Linked DNA regions of Homo sapiens: all the other regions are linked to region 5. The links come from fine-mapping of genetic effects on gene expression. A gene starts in region 5. Each other region holds a variant in brackets. All regions are shown on one strand. Distances are between the middles of the regions. Region 1 overlaps LZTS1 (leucine zipper tumor suppressor 1). Region 2 overlaps LZTS1 (leucine zipper tumor suppressor 1). Region 3 overlaps LZTS1 (leucine zipper tumor suppressor 1). Region 4 overlaps LZTS1 (leucine zipper tumor suppressor 1). Region 5 holds the start of LZTS1 (leucine zipper tumor suppressor 1).

Region 1 (4,115 bases), 25 kb after region 5:
CCATTCTTTTTTTTTTGAGACAGAGTTTCACTCTTGTTGCCCAGGCTGGAGTGCAATGGTGCGATCTTGGCTCACTGCAACTTCTGCCTCAGGTGCAAGCGATTCTCCTGCCTCGGCCTCCCGAGTAGCTGAGATTACAGGTGCCCACCACAATGCGCAGCTAATTTTTTTTTTTTTTTTTTGTATTTTTAGTAGAGATGGGGTTTCACCATGTTGGCCAGGCTGGTCTTGAACTGCTGACCTCAGGTGATCTGCCCACCTCAGCCTCCCAAAGTGCTGGGATTACAGGCGTGAGCCACCGTGTCCAGGCCACTAAGCCATTCTTGAGGGATCCACCCCGGTGACCTAAACACCTCCCACCAGGCCTCACCTCCACCCTTAGAGATCAAATTTCAACATGAGATTTGGAGGGGACAAACATCCAAATGATATCCTCTCCCATCTCACAATCTTACCCTTGTCCTGCTTCTGTAATGATTTTCTTCAACCATTCCTATAACCATTACGTTAAAAAATACTGAGTAGACACCGTCTTTGCTGAGTAGCTCAGGGAGAACAACTGTTCTTGCTGCCATTGCAGCCACCCAGGCCCTGGGGAATGATTTGAAAGAACAGATAAGCGAACTGTGAGCTGCAGATCATCAGCCTAGACCTGGCTGGTTAGAGAAGAATTCAGCCTAGAGAGGAGGTAGAAGGTAAGTCTGGGAGGTACTTGTGAGCGGTTTTTTAGAGAGCCTTGAATGCCAGGCTAATGTCCAGGTGGAAGGTAGGGAGTGCAGCTCCCAGAACTGGCTGGATCTAAGGAGGAAGGATGGGAGGAGGAGAGCTGGGTCTGTCCGGAGTGATGTCGCTGACAGTGCTTTAAGGAAGGGAACTGTCAGGACCACCCTGCCCCTTCCTCCCTCCCTGCTCTGCTGTGCCCACCAATTCTCCTGGCACTTCTTGAAATAACATTAGCGCAATCGACTCCCCAGCTATTAAAGGGGAAGGCAGTTCCACATTCAGGCGGTGCTGCTTTTTTATTTCAAGTGTTCTCACTGCTAATGGGACATGGGGTCTGAACACATGTGCACGCGCCTCCGTGCATGTGGCAGCGGGAGGAATTATCCCCATGAATGTCAATGAATGGGCAGGGACAATGAGGTACAGTGAATGAGCAAGTTGTAAGGGGGCCTTTCACAGAGGTCTGAATGACAAGTGAACTCTGAAGAAGACTGCCAGCAGGAACACGAGCCACATCCAGAGAATGAGAGAGGACTGTTACGCCTGACAAAGCCAGGCTGCGGGAAGAGCCAAAGTCCTTCCAATTAGCACTATTACTGGGCAGATGAAAGCAGAAGGAAGGGTGCACCCTTATTGTGGGCTACTCTAAGAAGATCAGGGCCGATTCTTCGAAAGAAAGAACTGAGAAAACGAGGGAAATCCAGCCTCATCTGGGGTTGGGGTGGTACCTAAGGGAATAAGAGCAAGCACTTTCACTGTCTCCTGTGTAGGAGGATGGCCTAAGGCCTCCTTCACCTCTTTTCTCGGTCAGTAGCAATTCTACTTCTTGGGATGGAAGTGAAATCAGGAAAAGAAAATTCACTGGCAATTTCAGCAATTTTTTTTTTTTTTTTTTGAGACACGGTTTCTCTCTGTCACCCAGAGATCATGGCTAACTGCAGCCTCAACCTCCTGGGCTCAGGTGATCCTCCCACCTCAGCCTCCTGAGTAGCTGGGACTACGGGCATGTGCTACCATGCCCAGCTTATTTGTTTGTTTTTATTAGAGTTGGGGTCTCACCATGTTTCCCATGCTGGTCTCAAACTCCTGAACTCAAGCGATCTGCTCACTTTGGCCTCCCAAAGTGCTGGTATTACAGGCATAAATCACCATGCTCAGCCTCTTTTTTTTTTTTTTTTTTTTTGAGACAGGGTCTTGCTCCATCACCCAGGCTGGAGCTCACTGCAGCCTGGAACTCCTGGACTTAAGCGATCCTCCCACCTCAGACTCTCAGTAGCTGGGACTTCAGGTGCATGGCACCACGCCCAGCTAATTTTAAAATGTTTTGTAGACATGGGGGGTCTCACTATGTCACCCAGGCTGGTCTCGAACCCCTGGCCTCAGGCGATTCTCTCAATTCAGCCTTCCAAAGTCCAGCAATTTCTGAGGCAAATAGCTAGATGTCTGCTATTTTTTATTTTCCTGTCACCAGCCCACTAACACATCTTCCAACTTCTTTGAGCCTCTCTGATTTCCCTCCCTCCTTCCTTGGATGGCTGTTTAGCTGGGTAAATGGAGACAAAACAATGTTAGTCTTCAAGAAGCCCAAAGACTAGCAGAGGGGATAGACAGATAAAGAACA[G/C]GTTACTTCAGAAACAGAATGAAATCAATTCTCTAAGAGTTTCAGTCTGCCATTGTACAATGACAGACAAGGCAGCAAAGAAAACATAGGATGGCTTCCTGGAGGAAGTGACATTTGAGCTGGACCTTGAAGGATGGGTTTTCACAGGCAGAAGGCTGGAGATATAGGGAGAAGTTTTGTGAAAGAGATTCTAGGTTGTGCCTGTGGCACATGAGAGCATTATGTGCTGAGTGGCATTTGGAAGAAATGGTGAGAAAGCACTGACAGGTGACAGGACAAATAAAACTGGCAATTGGGGTTGGGACCCAGGGCATAAAGGGTCATGAATGTACTGCAGGGAGTGAGTACAGATCTCCGAGGAAGGAAATTAAGACAATTATTGGAGAGAGGAGAGGCTGGAAAAGAACCTGAAGCTGTCAAGTCTGTGTTTTAGAAAGGCAGTGCCTAGTTGCTGCAATGTGGAAGATCTATTTGAGCTAGGAGAGAACTAAGGCAGAAAGTCCATTCATTCATTCATTCATTTGATGAATATGTATTGAGCTCCATATTAGCAGCAGCAAATCCATACAGGCCTGCAGCAACCCCAGTTCTTGCCTCCTCAGAGAAAGAATTAGACAGAGGAGGTATAAGGCAGAGTGAGAAACTGAGGCAAGTTTTAGAGCAGGAGTGAAAGTGTATTAACAACTATCAGGGCAGGAATGAAATGGAGTGAAGCACGCTTGTAAGAGAGCCCGGTGGGAGGCCTGTGAGAGAGTCAAGTGTACGGTTTGACCTTTGACCTGGGGTCTTATGTTGGCATCTTCCTGTTGCGTTATTTCCTCCTGATTCTTCCCTTTGGGTGGGCTGTCCACATGCACAGTGGCCTGCCAGCACTTGGGAAGGGCAAATGCTGTACCTGCACCGTGGGTTTACTGAAGTTGTGTGCATGCTCATTTGAGGAATTCTCCACTTACCTGTCTCGTTCCTAGAGGAAGGTAATATACCAGTTATACCATTTTGCCTCTTAGTGCGCATGCTTGAACCCACACACCCAACTGCTGAGATCTTATCAGGAAGCTGCTGATCACCAGCTTCAGGTGTTTCTATCTACTGGGAGACTGCCTGTCCCTGGCACCAGCTGTGACCAATTATTATTTCAGCGACACACTGTAACAACCACCTGACCATCTGATGGTCACCTGACATTCCTGGGTTGGGGACTCTCCTGCCCTGCTCATGCCTGCCCGACTACCTACTGTAACACAACTATGTGCCAGGCGCTGTGCTAAGTGATACATACAGTGGTGAGCAAGACGTTCCAAGGTGCTCATAGTAGATGGGAGTGTTTCCACACACACATTATCCTGCTCCCAGCCTTCCCTCCAGTCCCAGGGTTCCCAAGCTCTGCACCAAGCTGGAATTGGCATTAGACACAGCAAGTCCTACTGGGAAATGGCTAGGAGGCTGACAAATCCTGCTGTTTTGGATCTTGCACCAGATTCTTGGCACTATGGTGCACAGAAACAGAGAAAAGGGTGCTTTTAGGACAGTTCGCCCACCTGGAGTTGCTGGAATTTTCTAACACCCCACCCTACTTCCTCCAACTCATAGATCAGCCTACAAAGTGAAAATCCACAGTTAAAGGCCCAGTTCTTAAACCATTTCTTGGTTTGTCCTGTTGGAATTAATACCAGCCTTATATACTTGTTACTGGAAAGAGGTCCTAATCCAGTCCCCAAGAGAGGGTTCTTGGACCTTGCTCAAGAAAGAATTCAGGGCAAGTCCATAAAGT
Region 2 (4,115 bases), 38 kb after region 5:
CTTTTGACTTCAAGAAATGCGAGGATCTAATTCTAGCATCTTTCCATACTGCTCTATAATTTCACATGCACTTTGGTTTCAGTGCATCCCATGTGTACTGTCCTCACTGGTCAAGCATTTTTTGTATCTGTGATTTCATTTAATCCTGACAGTGGCCGGGCTTTGGTATCAACTGTGCTTATCTGACACATGAGGAAATGGAGACCCTGAAAGATTGAATTGTATGCCTGATGATACAGCAGATCCGTCGGTCTGGGATCTTTTGTCTAGGGCCTAATGCAAACATGCAAGTAAAGTGTGTGCCAAGTGTGAGGTCTGGGCCGGGCGCAGTGGCTCACACCTGTAATCCCAGCACTTTGGGAGTCCGAGTCGGGTGGATCATGAGGTCAAGAGATCGAGACCATCCTGGCCAACATGGTGAAACCCGTCTCTACTGAAAATAAAAAAATTAGCTGGGCATGGTGGCGTGAGCGCCTGTAGTCCCAGCTACTTGGGAGGCTGAGGCAGAAGAGTCACTTGAACCCGGGAGGCAGAGGTTGCAGTGAGCCGAGATCACATCACTGCACTCCAGCCTGGCGACAGAGTGAGACTCTGTCTCAAAAAACAAACAAGCAAAAAAACAAGTGTCTGTTCTGATGAATGATGACTGATGGTTTCCTCCTAAGGCCCTACAACTGTGCTGGCCACATGTAAGAGTAGGCAGGGCCCAGTAAGTGGGTTGAGTGTCCCAGAGCAGGAGTGAGGCAGCACCAGAATTAGAGCTCTGGTTCCCTGACTGCAGCACCGCCCTCCTACCCCAACTCCCGCACCTCTGCTATCCAGCCCCCAACATGGAGACCAGGTCTACACTCTTGGGCTCTCAGCACCCTGGGGACAAAGAAGCAGGAGGAAAAGAACACAAGGACGATGCCAGAAACCAGGGGACCCGACAGCCCAGACAGCATCCTCCACCAGGGTGCCTGAGAGGTGAGGCGGATAAGAGAGTAGCTGTTTTCTTTTTTTTTCTTTTCTTTTTTTTTTTTTTTGAGATGGAGTCTCACTTTGTTGCCCAGGCTGGAATGCAGTGGTGCGATCTTGGCTCACTGCAACCTCTGCCTCCTGGGTTCAAGTGATTCCTCGGCCTCAGCCTCCTGAGTGGCTGGGACTACAGGTGCGCGCCACCATGCCTGGCTAATTTTTGTATTTTTAGTAGAGACAGGGTTTCACCATGTTGCCCAGGCTGGTCTTGAACTCCTGACCTCTGGTGATCTGCCCACCTTGGCATCCCCAAGTGCTGGGATTACAGGTGTGAGCCACCATGCCTGGCCAAGAGAGTAACTTTCACCTCCTTTCCTACAAAAGAAAAAATTAAAAACCGCTCACATGCTAGGGGCAGAGACAAACTGGCTCTAACTCAGCACATTCCTAAGAAAGCTGCATTTTTGGTTAAATTCATGCTGCTTTTTAAACCCTTTTTGTTTAGGTGTACATAGCTGTCAGATCTCTCCACCAGATCCTCAAAAACAGAAACTCTGCCTTGTATTTTTTTTTTGTCTTGGTCCAAAACGCCGAACAGGATTGGTTGTTGAGGAAGGGGGTGGATGCACTTCCCCCAGGTGACCAGTTGTCTCAAAGTCTACATGATGAATGTTTGAGTGAAAACCAGATTTGGGTTCTGGTAGTATAGACTTGGCTTCGGTATCTGCATATGTGGAGACCTCAGTTTAAGTCACATGCCTTCCCAGAGCCTCAGCTTCCCTTCTGTGAACTAGGTCAGTAGTCCCTGTGCCTCCTTATGAGCTGGTTTTATTAAAAATATTTATTGAGAGCCAGGTGTGATGGCTCACACTGGTAATTCCAGCACTTTGGGCGGCCAAGGCAGGAAGATCACTTGAGCCCAGGAGTTTGAGACCAGCCTAGGCAACATAGCAAGCCCTGCCCTGTCTCTGCACAAAATTTAAAAATTAGACAGTTATGGTGGCATATACCTGTAGTCCCAGCTACTTGGGAGGCAGAGGAAGGAGGATCTCTTGAGCCTTGGAGGTTGAGGTTGCAGTGGGCTACAATTGCACCACTGCACTCCAGCCTGGACAAGAGAGTGAGACTCTGTCTCCAAAAAAAAAAAAAAATTGTTGAGCATCTATTATGTTCTTAGTACTGTGTTTGACCCTGTGTGTGATACAAAGAAGCTTTAGTGCTATCTGCCTTCAAGGGGGTTTAAAGATAAGTGGGGTGACAGACTTTCACCCCTGAAAAGTTAGATGATGCAAGAGCTGTGCAGGCTGAGGGCCAAGGGAGCTGAGCACTGAGGAGCAACTGTGGCCAAGGGAACTTCCTGCCCTCTGCGCAGAGCAGGGAGATGGGAGCCAGGCCTGAAACAGGGCTGTATTCTTTCTTGGAAAGGAAGCTGAGGTTTCATGGTGAGATTCAGGGGTTGTTTTCTCCCCTGCCTTTTTTTTTTTTTTTTTTTTTTTTTTGAGACAGAGTCTCTCTGTTGCCCAGGCTGGAGTGCAGTGGCATGATCATAGCTCATTGCAACCTCCAACTCCTAGCCTGAAGCAATCCTCCCACCTCAGCCTACCA[A/G]ATAGCTGGGACTATAGGCATTGTGGCACTGTGCCTGGCTCATTTTTTTAAAAAATCTTTTGTAGACATGGCAGGGAGGGTCTCACAGTGTTTCCCAGGCTGGTCTCGAACTCCTGACCTCAAGCCATCCTCCTCCCTTGGCCTCCCAAAGTGTTGGGATTATAGCCATGAGCCACCATGCCTAGCTGAGATGCAAGTTCTTTATGAGAGGCCTTGCTCCTCTTTTTCTCTGCAGTCAACACGATGCCTGCCATGCCGCTACCCTGGGGGACAATGTGAATGAATAATAGTGAGTGTGAAGTGCTCCAGGTTGCACAGATGGAACTGAGCATGAAAAAGCGAAGGCGTGGTTCCCATGGCTAAGATTAGAAATTACCCTGGGCTGGTGATGCCGCCCCAGTGGGAAGGAGAGAGCTACAGGCAGAACTCTGATCCCTGCCCGGCAACCTACCAGCCATTCCTGCAGACAGCTTGCTCCCCGACCTGGGACAGCAGCTGCAGCCTCCTCTGCCTTCCCAGCACTTGAACCCACAGGGTGACCCTCTCTGATTCAAGCAGCACCGTGAGCCCAACAGGCTGAACTCCCATTTGTATCAGACAAACTGACACACACACGTACACACCCCACATCCCCCCTTTCCACACGTGCCCTGGTAGATCAGGGGCTGCTCTTTCTCCCGTTTCCCTCTTCCCCTCAGCTGGAAATGAAACCCAGTTGTCCCTGTCCTGTTAGTCAAATAGACAGAATAAAGGGTTGGAGCCTGGAATTTGTGATATGAGCTTGGCAAATCCCTTTTCCGCTCTGGCCTCAGGGTGTAGTGAAGCATTTGGGGCAGAGGACGGCCGAGGTCCTGCCTGGCTGGTTGTGCCTCGAGTTCCAGGCTGCCTCAGAGCAGGGGGCTCCTCTGTACCTGCAGCAGGTCAACCCCTCTGCTCAGCCAAAGCTCCTTCACCACACCTGGTCACAGGGCTCCTCCCTGGGCCTCATTTCTGCCAGTGCCCCTCTTCTGAGTAACAGCAACTTCTCCTCCCCTCCCCCAGGGTAACACAGCCAACTGTGACTCAGGGGCTCTCTGTCTCACTGCCGCTGCCTTCCTTTGATATCTTGGCTAATAGAGGTCCTAGATGTCGTCTCTCCTGCACAGTTTAAGGAACGGGGCTTTAAAAACTGACAGCTTCTGAGACCCCCAATAAAATAAATCTTAGTAAAGCTTTCATACGTGGAAAAATAATCATATATAAGAGGGTTTTTGCAACAGAATGGAAACATCTAAGTAGGGAATAGTAAAAGAAATGAGGTGGAATATTACACAGCAGGTAAATGGGAAGATCTAGCTCTACATGCTGTCAATATGCATGGATCCGAAGTATCAAATAAAAGGTCGAATAAAACAATTAAGGTTGCAGAATGATATATATGACATGATATGACTTATGTAAAGTAAAAAACATATAGCATTCATAGACGTTAAAATATGTTTAATGATCCAAAAATGTTCCCACTCAAATCATGAGAATTTTCCACCTGGGGAGAGAGATTAGGGGTGGGAGTG
Region 3 (4,115 bases), 32 kb after region 5:
AGGCCCACAGACTCCAACACGCCCACAGGCTCGGACCCAATGCTCAGGCCAGAGTGCCACTGAGGCATGAGTGCCCACATGGAGAAGCCTCCATCACACACCGGGATGGAGATGATTGCCGCTATGCTCCAAGCTACCTAGTGTATTCCAAGGGGTTCCCTAGGATGAGGAGAAGGGATGAAAAGTTCGTAAACACCCACTGTGTAGAGTGTTTTATGGTGTTGCATTTGGGAAAGGGTAGCTGGTAGAACATAGGCACCATAAAATAAAATACGATGCATAAACACACGCTTATCCATTCATTCAACAAACAAGCACTGAGTCTTGGGCCAGAAGGTACTGCGCTCGAAGCTGGGAGTACAGTGTTGGGTGAAAAACAGTCTTGCCATCTACTGAGAAAGAGCTCAAAGTAGAGAGCAGCTGTGCTACAGAGTGATTAATGCCCACTGTAAGAACACGCAGAAGGGGCCTCACAGATACGGGAAGGCTTCATAGCAGAAGAGTGCCTTCTGAGCAAAGTCCCAGGGGCTTTGGGCCTAGGGAGCAGCGTGGGAAAACCTAGGGCAGGGTCTGAGGGAGAAAATGACAGATTTACAAACTCCAGTCTCAGAATAGAGGGCGGGCAGGCCTGGGGAGGGGAGGAGAGGAAGTGGTGGCGGATGACATGAAGATACAAAGATACAGAAAGTCCCAGTCATGAAGGCCTTCTCTGCCATGTTAGGACATTTGGGCTTTATTTTTGGGGCAATAGGGTAGCCTTGGGAGAGCTAGGAAAAAAAAAAACAAATATAACAGGTCTATTAATTTCCCAAGGGAACTATGATAGCAACTTAGACTAAGACAGTGGCTATGGAATCTCAGGGAAATGCTGGTTTTGAGGAAAAGCAATAGTGAGACAGGGCTTGGTGGCTGGTCAGATGTAGGGTGAGGGCTGAGTGGGAATCAAAAGTTCCTGGTTTGCTTAGGTTTCTTGGGACCGGTTTCTGGCTTGATCACAGTTGTGCTGTTCACTAACACCGGGATTCCAGAAGGAGGGGCACGCTGAAGGCAGATGGATCCTGGCAAGCAAGAGAGAATGAAGAATTCCACTGTGGATGTGCGAGGGTGAGATGTGGCCCCTCCGAGGGAAGCGCAGTTGGATGTTTAGGGCAGGAGCTCAGGGGAGAGGATTTGGCTGCAGATAACGATCTAAAAATCATCCCCATGTGGATGCAGCTGACGCCGTGCAGAAGGAGCAGAGGTCAGGGTCTCAGATACAGCCTGAAAAGCATCCACATTTAGAGAATGAAAGAGGTAAAGGTGACAGAGGACAGGCTGCGCAACAGGAGGAAAGCCAGGCAATCACGGTATCACATAAGCCAAGGAAGCAGTGTTTCAAAAAACACAGACCGAAAAAGAAAGAGACAGAGCCGCCGAGAGGTCAAGTTTGCTAACTATTGGGAAGGTCCATTGGATTTAGCAACATCCCGGAGGGCAGTTCTAGTGGATTGGTGGGGACAGAAACCAGGGCCTCTGTGGATTGAAGAGCCAATGAGAAATGATCGAGCAGCAATAGTGAGTATGATGTTCTGTCTCTCTCGAGAAGCTTGGCTGTGAACGGGAGAAAAAAGACAGTGGTCCCTGGAGAAGAAAATGGAGTCCAGGAGCTTGTATGTTATTTTTGAATTGGGAGACTTGTGCACGTTTAAATGCTCATGGGAGAGAATAATAGAAAACTGGAAGTGAGAAGGTTGGCGTTGACGAGAGTCACGCCATGGCTGGAAGGATTAGTCTGAGATGAAGACAGACTTCTGTTTCACGGTGACAGGCACAGAGGAGGCAGCAGTCATGTCAATTGCAGGTTTATGAGTTCAGGGAATTGAGGGAGTTTCCTCCCAATGATTCTACTTATCTCTGTATTATAGAGATGAAGTTGTCTGCAGGGAGTGTGGCAGCAGAGGTGGGTACAGGGCTTTGTAAGTGGCAAAGGACTGATAAGATTTGAGAAATGCAACAGGGAGCAGGAGAAGCACAGGGCAGCTAGGGGGTCTTGATTCTAGGGTCCCCATCGGCATCTGGGCTCAAAAAAGAGTTCCAT[G/A]TCTAGTGGACAAAGGCACCACTTCAAAATACAAAGACCACCCAGCAGGGAAAACCAATGAGGACCTGATCTGGGAAGGGGGGTCAGGCTCAGAAGGGAGAATTGGGCATGAGCAAAGCCACAGGGGAGGAAAAAAGCAAGACAGGCCCTTGAGGGTGGTCAAGGGACACCAGTAAGGTCACTCTGGAGGTCAGATGCGACCCAGAGTATCAGCAGCTGCACATCGTGGATCAGTCAAGAAGCAGGCCCAGTCATTCTAGCCTGAAATAGTGGGAGATGACCTGGGAAGACAGGTTGGGCTTAGATTGCATCGGACCTTGAATGCCAAGTTAAATGTGTCCATTGTCTGACATGATTCATGACATGATTCTATTAAGGCAGATTCTGTTCTGCTCAGTGCTATGCCTACAGGGCCCTGATGGAGACTGTGCACAATAAATGTTCAATAAGTACTTGTGAATATTGAAAAAATGCACAGGTGCTCCCAGCAGCTCACCCCTCCAGTGGCTGTTCTTTCTACCTGTCAAAGCCTGTGCTGACACATATACTGGGAGGTGACCCCCAGCTGCGGCTGCCCCACCAGGCACATCAAGCCAGGCCCCGGCCCTGCTTTCACCTGGCTCGCCTATGGCTAGTCTGTCCAGCAGCCGCTGTGCACCCACCAAACCACAGGCAATGGAAATGCATAGTCTTGGGTTTGAATTCTTAACAGAGCATAGGACTGGCATTGCTTTATTCAGACACAGTCAAGGAAGGCAAGGGGGAGGGAGAGGCGCTTTTCCACCATCCCTGCACTGGTGAAGCAGCCGCGGTCAGGGAGGTTGTTCCTGGCAGAGGGAAGAGTAGGTGGGAAAGAACCGAGAGGATGGCAAGTGGGGCCTATGAGTCACTCAGCGTCACCGGGGCCAGAAGGGCAAGGAGGTTCAGAAGCAAAGTGGGAGTGACCCCGAGCATCTACAGGTGGCTCTTCGGAGCCTCTTTAAGCACCTCTGGCCTTGCTGCTGGTAACACTCACCAGGAAGGTTCATGGAGACAGAGGGGGCACAGCTGAGGGACTTAGGTGGCAGCTGGGGGTCAACACTGCAGGAGCCCTGGGCTTCCAACAAGAGGTTAATTATCTCACTGTCAGGGGCTGTGGGGTCCACAGACTCCAGGAGAGTGGAAACACGGCCGGATGCTCAACCCAGGCTCAGCGGCTCCTGGGCTAAATGTGAGGCTCTAGTTCACTGAGAAGCCTTGCAGGAGGAGGCAAGGAGCTTGAGGAATCAGGGCAGAGGTGACACAGAAGTCAAAATTCCTCAGCCAGACACATCAAAGGGTACCAAGAGAGCTTTAACTCAGGACAGGTAGAGACTCGTTGGGAATGGCCACAGGCTTCCTGGCTTGTGCACACAGACTCCCATGCTGTTGAGCACACAAAAATACACTCAGGCACACACAGACAGTGCCAGGTACCCAAAGCTGCCCTCCCTGAGGGACCAGGTTAAACTCTTCGTGCCACGCCAGGTCATTTCCAGCACCCAAAGTCAGGAATCTGAGCTGTGCTTCCTGCTGGGGCTTCCTCAATTCCAATCCTTTCTGGGTTCCGAAACCCAGAAATGTGAAATCAACCAGGTCTCCCTGTTCCACCCCTTCCCTCTCCACACACACAAACACACACACACACACACACACACACACACACAGAGGACACACTCGGTGCATCTAAAAGATGAGCCCTACTGAAGTAGGGGTGAGGGGTAAGGCCAGAAGGGGAGGGAGTGTCTTTAAGACTTGTACTGTGTTTCCCCCACCCTTCCTCCTGTCCCACACCTGCCCACCTCCTGGAGGAGTCTGCGCCTTTTGTCCTAAGTTCTCCCTCTTCCCTGTCCAAACCAAAGCCCTCCTGGGTATGGCAGAGGTGGCAGAGGGCTTTCCAGCCTTCCTGCTTCTTTCTACTCTGTCTTGCCACCTCTGTCCTTCGCCATACTCTTGCCCCATCCAAACTCACAAGCTCCAAAGTTCCCTTAATTTTCCCTGGAAAGACAGCACTTATCAC
Region 4 (4,115 bases), 53 kb after region 5:
ACCTCGGGAGGGCTGGGGCAAGCTGGTGGCAGGTTGCTATTTCATAGAACAAAGTGCCCAAGTCGCCATTAGGGTTTTTCCTTCCTAAGAGAGATGACATTCAGCTGCTTCAAAGCAACAGGCAAGGTCTGCTGAGACAATTGACCAAGAGGGGTGCTGCGTGCGCTCAGAGAGCCCAGACTGGCTCAAGGTCGGCACGCGTGCCTGGGGAGGGAGGGTGCAATGCGCGCGCAGGGGAGGCATGAGTCACCGCGGTCCTTTTCCTCTACAGGGCTCCGAGAAGGGTGCAGTGAGGCCCACAGCCTTCAAGCCTGTGCTGCCACGGTCAGGAGCCATCCTGCACTCCTCCCCGGAGAGTGCCAGCCACCAGCTGCACCCCGCCCCTCCAGACAAGCCCAAGGAGCAGGAGCTGAAGCCTGGCCTGTGCTCTGGGGCGCTGTCAGACTCCGGCCGGAACTCCATGTCCAGCCTGCCCACACACAGCACCAGCAGCAGCTACCAGCTGGACCCGCTGGTCACACCCGTGGGACCCACAAGCCGTTTTGGGGGCTCCGCCCACAACATCACCCAGGGCATCGTCCTCCAGGACAGCAACATGATGAGCCTGAAGGCTCTGTCCTTCTCCGACGGAGGTAGCAAGCTGGGCCACTCGAACAAGGCAGACAAGGGCCCCTCGTGTGTCCGCTCCCCCATCTCCACGGACGAGTGCAGCATCCAGGAGCTGGAGCAGAAGCTGTTGGAGAGGGAGGGCGCCCTCCAGAAGCTGCAGCGCAGCTTTGAGGAGAAGGAGCTTGCCTCCAGCCTGGCCTACGAGGAGCGGCCGCGGCGCTGCAGGGACGAGCTGGAGGGCCCGGAGCCCAAAGGCGGCAACAAGCTCAAGCAGGCCTCGCAGAAGAGCCAGCGCGCGCAGCAGGTCCTGCACCTGCAGGTACTGCAGCTTCAGCAGGAGAAGCGGCAGCTCCGGCAGGAGCTCGAGAGCCTCATGAAGGAGCAGGACCTGCTGGAGACCAAGCTCAGGTCCTACGAGAGGGAGAAGACCAGCTTCGGCCCCGCGCTGGAGGAGACCCAGTGGGAGGTGAGGCCACACAGGGCTCATGGGTTTGGGTGGTCAGCGGTTTGGCGCCAGTACCCCCCTCTCCTTCTGGTGCCGGCCAATAGCGTGCAAACACAGACCGCGCAGGCAAGCGGGGCTAATGTGCTGGCTTTATCACCCAAAGAAGGGGCTCCCTGCAAACCATGTTGGGGGATCGACTTACATCTGAGCTTCCTCCTGTCCCCACCATCACCCTCATGGCTCCTAGATTTCAGTTTCCCAAGTGAGCCATTAAATCATGAAGCCGGAAGCCAGATGACCAAGGCCCAGCCAGGCTGTGGGCTGACCTCCCTTCCATCAGCTCCCAGGAGGCTCAGAAGAAGAACAAGCCGTGCCTGAGTTCAGGCGGGGCCAGGGGCCCAAGAGAGCACAGAATGCATTTGTTGCTTTGGAGGGAGGGACTGCACCCACTAGTAAGAGGGACCCTATTGGTGGCAGGTTTCAGTGATGGAAGTGGCCACTCCTTGCTGAAGTGTAAGTGGAACTTCTATTTGGTGAGCTGAGATGGAAACCTAGGAGAGGAAGTAAAGAGTCCCCCACTCACACACTTACACACTCACACACACTCACTCACCCGGTCACACGTGGAAATGAGGCATCTGTACCTGACCGTGCTGGAGAACCCCATAACCTCTGCATCTATTAGTGGGAAAGCAGCTTTTCTCACCAGCCTGGTGGTCTGGATGACTCATGGAGTTCAAGCCCATCGTTGAGGCTCTTTACATGCTCGCACCCAGCTTGGTCTGTCCACGTGCCTGCCTCACCCCCAGTTCAGAGTCCAACTCTCAGTCTACACGCAAACCCCTGGCTATGTGCAAGTCAACAACCAGTGGTTTAACTTGCCCACTGCTGGCAGCTGTATCACCCCCATTTAACACCAATGGTATTGGTTTTGGTGTCAGCCTGATTTC[C/T]GTCATCGACGTTTATGCCCACATCCTCTGACCTCACCCCTGCATGCACCCAGCCCTCCTCTCTCCTGTCTACTGGAGTAAAGACTACCTCACAAATTCACTGCTGTACCCAGTGACTAGTATCATGCTGGCTTGGATGCAGAGCCCAATCCACATCTGTCAAACGAGGAATCATTGTCTTCTCCTCTTGCTCTTCTTCTCTATTTCCACCCCTATCCCCCATCAAAATTTGGCCAAGAGCAATGATGAAAACCGAAGCCACAGGTTAGACCCATGTGTCTCTGGATCTTGGCCATCTGGGGTCATGGGAGACCAAGGCCAGTCTGGCTGAATCTTAAGAGTGAATGAAGTCCAGAGCATGTGGCTCTACAGAATGGATTCTTGGAACTAGCCTGGAAGCCACCTTCACATTTCCTTTCACAGTAGAAATTTCCCCTTGCCCTCAGTGAAACACTGCACAGTCCTGGAGAAAATCCGACCCTACCCAGGATGCGTGCTTGGGACCAAGAATTTCATTCCAAGGCCAACCCTGTATTCATGCCACGAAGGGAGTGACACAGTCATGGCTGAGGCATGGGCCTGGCTTTGAACCTCAGCTTGACCACTTATGATCCAGGTGATTGTAAATACATTAGCCATGGTGGCAATGGGGTATAGTGATTAAACTGTTGGGATCAAATCTCTACTCTTATACTTTATATTTTATATATATATATATATATATATATATATATATATATATATATATATATATTAGCCCTCAGGCTGGTCACTTCACCAGCTATTTGCTATCATAACCTCTCTGTGCCTCAGTTTCATTGATGTAAATTGAGGACTACTAATAGTACCTACTTCATCGGGTTGTAAGGAATAGATGAGCAAATGTATGGCTTGGCACTTAATAACACTACAAATTATTAGTGAAAGTATGTTTATAATAATATACTTCTGTGTGGCTAGGCGTGGTGGCTCACGCCTGCAATCCCAGCACTTTGGGAGGCAGAGGCAGGCAGAGCACTTGAGGTCAGGAATTCGAGATCAGCCTGGCCAACATGAGGAAACCCCGTCTCTACTAAAAATACAAAAATCAGCCAGGCATGGTGGCAGGTGTCTGTAATCCCAGCTACTTGGGAGGCTGAGGCAGGAGAATCAGAGGGGAGGCGGAGGTTGCAGTGAGCCAAGATCACGCCACTACACCCCAGCCTAGGTGACAAAGCGAGACTTCTCAAATAATAACAATAATAATATACTATGTGTCATTATACATGATTATTATTATTTTATCATTTTACTATATAGCCTAGCTCGATAACCTGGGGAAAAGGTCACAGCAATGTTCAGCTTACTTTCAGATTGGACAAAGGCTGGAATGCCTAACACCGGGCCACCGCATCCGGAGTGGCTTGGTTATTTTAGGCAGCTGAGCTGTCACTTCCCTGGGTAAGGACACTCACCTCTTGGCACTCTGTCTCCACCCCACCCTCGGCAGGTGTGCCAGAAGTCAGGCGAGATCTCCCTCCTGAAGCAGCAGCTGAAGGAGTCCCAGACGGAGGTGAACGCCAAGGCTAGCGAGATCCTGGGTCTCAAGGCACAGCTGAAGGACACGCGGGGCAAGCTGGAGGGCCTGGAGCTGAGGACCCAGGACCTGGAGGGCGCCCTGCGCACCAAGGGCCTGGAGCTGGAGGTCTGTGAGAATGAGCTGCAGCGCAAGAAGAACGAGGCGGAGCTGCTGCGGGAGAAGGTGAACCTGCTGGAGCAGGAGCTGCAGGAGCTGCGGGCCCAGGCCGCCCTGGCCCGCGACATGGGGCCGCCCACCTTCCCCGAGGACGTCCCTGCCCTGCAGCGGGAGCTGGAGCGGCTGCGGGCCGAGCTGCGGGAGGAGCGGCAAGGCCATGACCAGATGTCCTCGGGCTTCCAGCATGAGCGGCTCGTGTGGAAGGAGGAGAAGGAGAAGGTGATTCAGTACCAGAAACAGCTGCAGCAGAGCTACGTGGCCATGTACCAGCGGAACCAGCGCCTGGAGAAGGCCCTGCAGCAGCTGGCACGTGGGGACAGCGCCGGGGAGCCCTTGGAGGTTGACCTGGAAGGGGCTGACATCCCCTACGAGGACA
Region 5 (4,115 bases):
ACCATCCACTTTCCAGATGAGGAAACTGAGGCCTCATCAGGGACTCCAAACCATCCACTTTCCAGATAGGAAACTGAGGTCTCATCAGGGACTCCAAACCATCCACTTTCCAGATGAGGAAACTGAGGCCTCATTAGGGACATGGCTTGTCCAAGAGCATATAGTCAGCAGTAGGGCCAGAACAAAAAGTGGGCTTCCAGAGTCCTTTGTCTCTTCCATGGAATCTCACCTCCGACGATGTGAAAATGAGTTTGAAGTCTGGAGCCCACCTCATACCTTAATCTACCTTCCAGGAGTCTGCTCTTTCCTTAAAGCGCTGGAATGTTTGATCGATATTAACTCATTCAGCTAAAATTCTTGAGATACTCTCACCAGCAAGCAAGAATACATGTTCTCTGTCAATAAATGCAACACAAAGAAGCATGGCGCTTTAGAAAAAGAAGACATTATTTTGCCCTGGACGATAAGAGAAGGTGTGAGTAAGGGTTCCATATTTTGTCTCAGATTTTGAGAGGTAGAGTTAGAAGAGCAGGAGAAAAGCTTTTCAGACTGAGGGGCAGGTTTATACAAAGGTGGGGAAAAGGAGGTGATGTTCAGGAAAAGGCTGAGTAGCCTTTGGGGTTGACACTTAGAAATTGTCGTATTGCTTGTAATTACTGCCACGTGTATGTACTTACCGCAAGGCAGTGGGTTTCATTTAATCATCAGAACAAACCTATACATGAGAAATTCATTCATTTAACAAATACATATTGAGTGCCTACTATGTTGCCTGGCAAGTTCTAGGTGTCGGGGATACATCTATGAATAAAACAGACCAAGTCCCTCAGCCACCAATAAAAGAGAACAAGTTCCTGCCTTCAGGGAATTTACACTGGGACTTGTTACCTCATTTCACAAATAAAAAAAGAAAGAAAGAAAAAGAAAAACTGAGAAAGAGGGAGGGGAAGGTAATGGCTCAAATAACAAGCAGCGAAGCCTGTCTGTGTTCTTAAACCCTCGCGGTGCCATCTTTCAGGAAGCCTAGATTCGAAGGTCAGAGTCTTCAGGGTCAACAACCGAAGGCAGTGAGATTCCCCTACAGGGTTTTGAGCAGGGGTGTGGCAGAAACCATATGGCTTGTTTTCCTTTGAGCTGTCCCCCCTGCCACCACAATTCTATTTAATTTTTTTGTATTTATTTATTTATTTATTTATTTTGAGACACGGTGTCACTCTGTCACCCAGGCTGGAGTGCAGTGGCACTATCTTGGCTCACTGCAACCTCTGCCTTCCAGGCTCAAGCAATTCCCAAGCCTCAGCCTCCCAAGTAGCTGGGATTACAGGCTCCTGCCACCACACCCAGCTAATTTTTGTATTTTTTTTTTTTTTTTTTTTTAGTAGAGACGGGGTTTCACCATGTTGGCCAGGCTGGTCTTCAACTCCTGACCTCAAGTGATCCACCAACCTCGGCCTCCCAAAGTGCTGAGATTACAGGCATGAGCCACCGCGTCCGGCCCCCATGCTATTTATAATCAGATCGGCTATGTCAATCCTAATCCATTACATCTATCCCCCACCCCCCAACACACACACACACACACACACACACACACACACACACACACAGGCTTCTTTCAAGATGAGGCTAACACTCCTTGGGCAGAGCTGCCATCTTCCCGCCAAGCCTGGTTTTAGAGGATTAGCCTCAGTGCACCCTCAAGCCCCCAAGCCTCATGCTGCACCTAGCACTCCGGTTAACTGACCCTTTGTCCTACAAAACCTTGTAAGCTTGAATCCTCTCCTGGCTCAGTTGCTAGAAGTTAAAAGTGAGGGTGGTTGAGAAAATGATAGTATTATAAGGGGACTGGGTGAGACTAATAGCTATAAACTTGAAACAGGCCTCTGCTGTCACCTGAAACTCAGCTCCCTCAGAGCTGGAAAAGTTTGCTTTTGACATGTTTTGGGAGTGGGAGTCCCGGTGCTCTGGACTCTAGCCTGTAATCCTGGTGTGGTTCGCAATGCCCCTCACTTGGGTGCTAGTCCAGTCCTTGAACAAAACACACGCCCTTTAGTGCGAGTCGGGAGCGGGAGAGACGGTATTAAGAAAAATAAACTGGCGATTAAGAGGAAGGGGTAATGAAGAAAGGGGAACATACACAGAACGGGAGAAGGAATGGATTTTAAACAAAACTGGAGTAAGAATTTCAGGTAATGAAAGGGAAAAAAGGATGCGACAAGAGCAAGACAGGAACAATCGGAGAAAGGGGGCCAGGCAAGAAAGGAAGACTGAGGGGGCAGGGTCGCCCAATGGGGCTGATGGAAGTGAGAGCAGAGAGACGGGACCCGGGACCCCGCGCAGGCCGCGGGCGCGAAGGAGCCGCGAGGTCGCGAGCAGCCCCAGCTGTCAGCCCGGAACAAAGGCCGCCGAGCGGCACAGACCAGGCTGCCGGCAGCTCGCTGCCAATCAGCGGCGCCGGCTCTGGCCCCGCCCCGGGCCGGCCCCGCCCCGCCCCGCCCCGCCCCGCCCCGCCCCGGCTCCGGGACCCGCGCAGAGGCCGGCGCGCCTGGAGCTGGCGGGTTGGCAGCGGCCGGGCGGGGAGGCCGAAAGTTTCTCTGCCCGCCTCGGCCAGTGAGTGGGAGCCGGGAGCTGCATCCCGCGCAGTGGGACCGGCCCGGCCCGCTCAGCAGCTCTGGAAAAAGAGAGACGGGAACACACCGGGAAACACTGGGAAAAAAAAAAAGTCTCAAGTGCGCCCGAGGCGCAGGGGGCAGGTAAGGTGCGGTGGCCGGGGATCTCCTCGCCCCTGGAGGGTCTGCTGCCCTGGCTGCGGGAAACCGCTTTCCCCTCGCCGGGCCGGACCGTCCGTGCGTCCGCGCGTCCGTCGGTCTTTGTCTGTCTGTGTCCGTGGCTGTCGAGGTGTCTTTGTCTCCGCGTGGAGCTGTCAGGGTCTCCCCTCTGCAGGGTGGGCGCCGCTTCTCCGGCCCGGCCCAGAGGAGGTGACTGTGCGTCTGTCCTCCTGTCTTTGTCTTCGTGTCTCCTGCAGACGGGGTTCGTCTATTCCCAGCACCGATGCTGATCCTGGCGGGGACGTCAGTGTTAGGTGACACTGGTGTCGGAGGTGAAGAAGTGGGAGGTGGGGACGCGAGGCCGCAGGAGCAGGGGCCGCAGGAAGAGGGTCCGGCGGTCGGTCCGGGCCGCTGAACTTCGCCGCCTGGAACTTTGCAGATGAGCTGTGTCCACACCGGTGGGGAGGACACCGGTGCGTTGCAGCCAGAGATTTGAAAGGTTTCCCTCAAGGAATAAGTCACACGGGCGGAGGTGGTTAGAGAGGAAGGTGGTAAATCGAAGTGTCTAAGTGGCTCCCTGGGGCTGCAGCTTCCTGGGGTCGGTCCTGGATGTGCAATTCAGGAATTTAGTCAAAGCACCATGCACACACAGACAGCCCCACACTACCTTCACTTCTTCCACCGCCACCCTAGGCAGCCAGACCTCACCCCTCCACCCTGCCACAGGCTTTGCTCTGGCTGGAGGGGCTTCAGAGGTCGCAGCTTGGCAGCAACAGGCATCCCCGAGACACCAAGGGCCAGGTGATGTCTCTTTTTCGTGCTCCAAGTGGAAAGGTTTGAACTGTGGAGCAAATGAGCCTTGTGCTCGCCCACGAGTATGTCAGGCCTGGGAAAGTGCTCCAGACTTGTTAGCTTCGCAGTCTTCAATTTCCCAGGAATAAGAAGTGCTTAGGGATCTGGCCTCCTAAAGTGTTTCCTGTCTCACTTATTCCCTCCACACCGTCCCGCTGCCATCAGCCCCTCTACTCTCTGGTCCCGGGCGCTGGGAAAGTACTGAGGAGGCACTGAGTTCTGGACCATGCCGGGCAGGCGCTGCTCCTAATAAGGATCCCACACTCTGCTGGAAGTGCAGCCTAATAGGAATGCTGGGAGCCCAGGAGCCCAGCCACAAAGAGATGAGCTATCTGCTTGGCAGTTCCTGCACCAAGACCCTGAGAAGAGTCTGCGGGTACCGGCAAGAGGGTGTTTGCAACCTGAGCTTTCTCTAAGTTCAAAAACAATTTTCTGCAGGCATCCAGAGGGAGAATGGAGGTGCCCGAAGAGTGTGCGCATATGGGTATTAGAGAT

The links.
Region 1: its variant is fine-mapped to the expression of LZTS1 in whole blood (TOPMed, PIP above 0.99). The same link has a PIP of 0.9 or more in fibroblasts.
Region 2: its variant is fine-mapped to the expression of LZTS1 in whole blood (TOPMed, PIP above 0.99). The same link has a PIP of 0.9 or more in T cells, blood mononuclear cells and testis.
Region 3: its variant is fine-mapped to the expression of LZTS1 in whole blood (TOPMed, PIP above 0.99).
Region 4: its variant is fine-mapped to the expression of LZTS1 in whole blood (TOPMed, PIP above 0.99).

What each region holds. Positions count from the first base shown.
Region 1 is chr8:20,277,473-20,281,587 of GRCh38, reverse strand. The region is part of intron 1 of LZTS1 (leucine zipper tumor suppressor 1); the gene reads left to right. All of the region lies in intron 1 of LZTS1-AS1 (LZTS1 antisense RNA 1), which reads right to left. Among named protein-coding and RNA genes, the nearest start is that of LZTS1-AS1, 3.8 kb to the right of the region's middle. The variant G/C (reference allele first, on the strand shown) is at 2,345.
Region 2 is chr8:20,264,018-20,268,132 of GRCh38, reverse strand. All of the region lies in intron 1 of LZTS1 (leucine zipper tumor suppressor 1), which reads left to right. Among named protein-coding and RNA genes, the nearest start is that of LZTS1-AS1, 9.7 kb to the left of the region's middle. The variant A/G (reference allele first, on the strand shown) is at 2,563.
Region 3 is chr8:20,270,447-20,274,561 of GRCh38, reverse strand. The region is part of intron 1 of LZTS1 (leucine zipper tumor suppressor 1); the gene reads left to right. Among named protein-coding and RNA genes, the nearest start is that of LZTS1-AS1, 3.3 kb to the left of the region's middle. RefSeq lists an enhancer at 2,153-2,688. The variant G/A (reference allele first, on the strand shown) is at 2,078.
Region 4 is chr8:20,249,742-20,253,856 of GRCh38, reverse strand. It overlaps LZTS1 (leucine zipper tumor suppressor 1), which reads left to right. Exons shown (of 4, transcript NM_021020.5): 3 at 272-1,075; 4 at 3,494-4,115. Among named protein-coding and RNA genes, the nearest start is that of LZTS1-AS1, 24 kb to the left of the region's middle. RefSeq lists an enhancer at 3,748-4,115. The variant C/T (reference allele first, on the strand shown) is at 2,005.
Region 5 is chr8:20,302,378-20,306,492 of GRCh38, reverse strand. LZTS1 (leucine zipper tumor suppressor 1) reads left to right here and starts at 2,530. Exons shown (of 4, transcript NM_021020.5): 1 at 2,530-2,753. RefSeq lists a silencer at 2,471-2,540.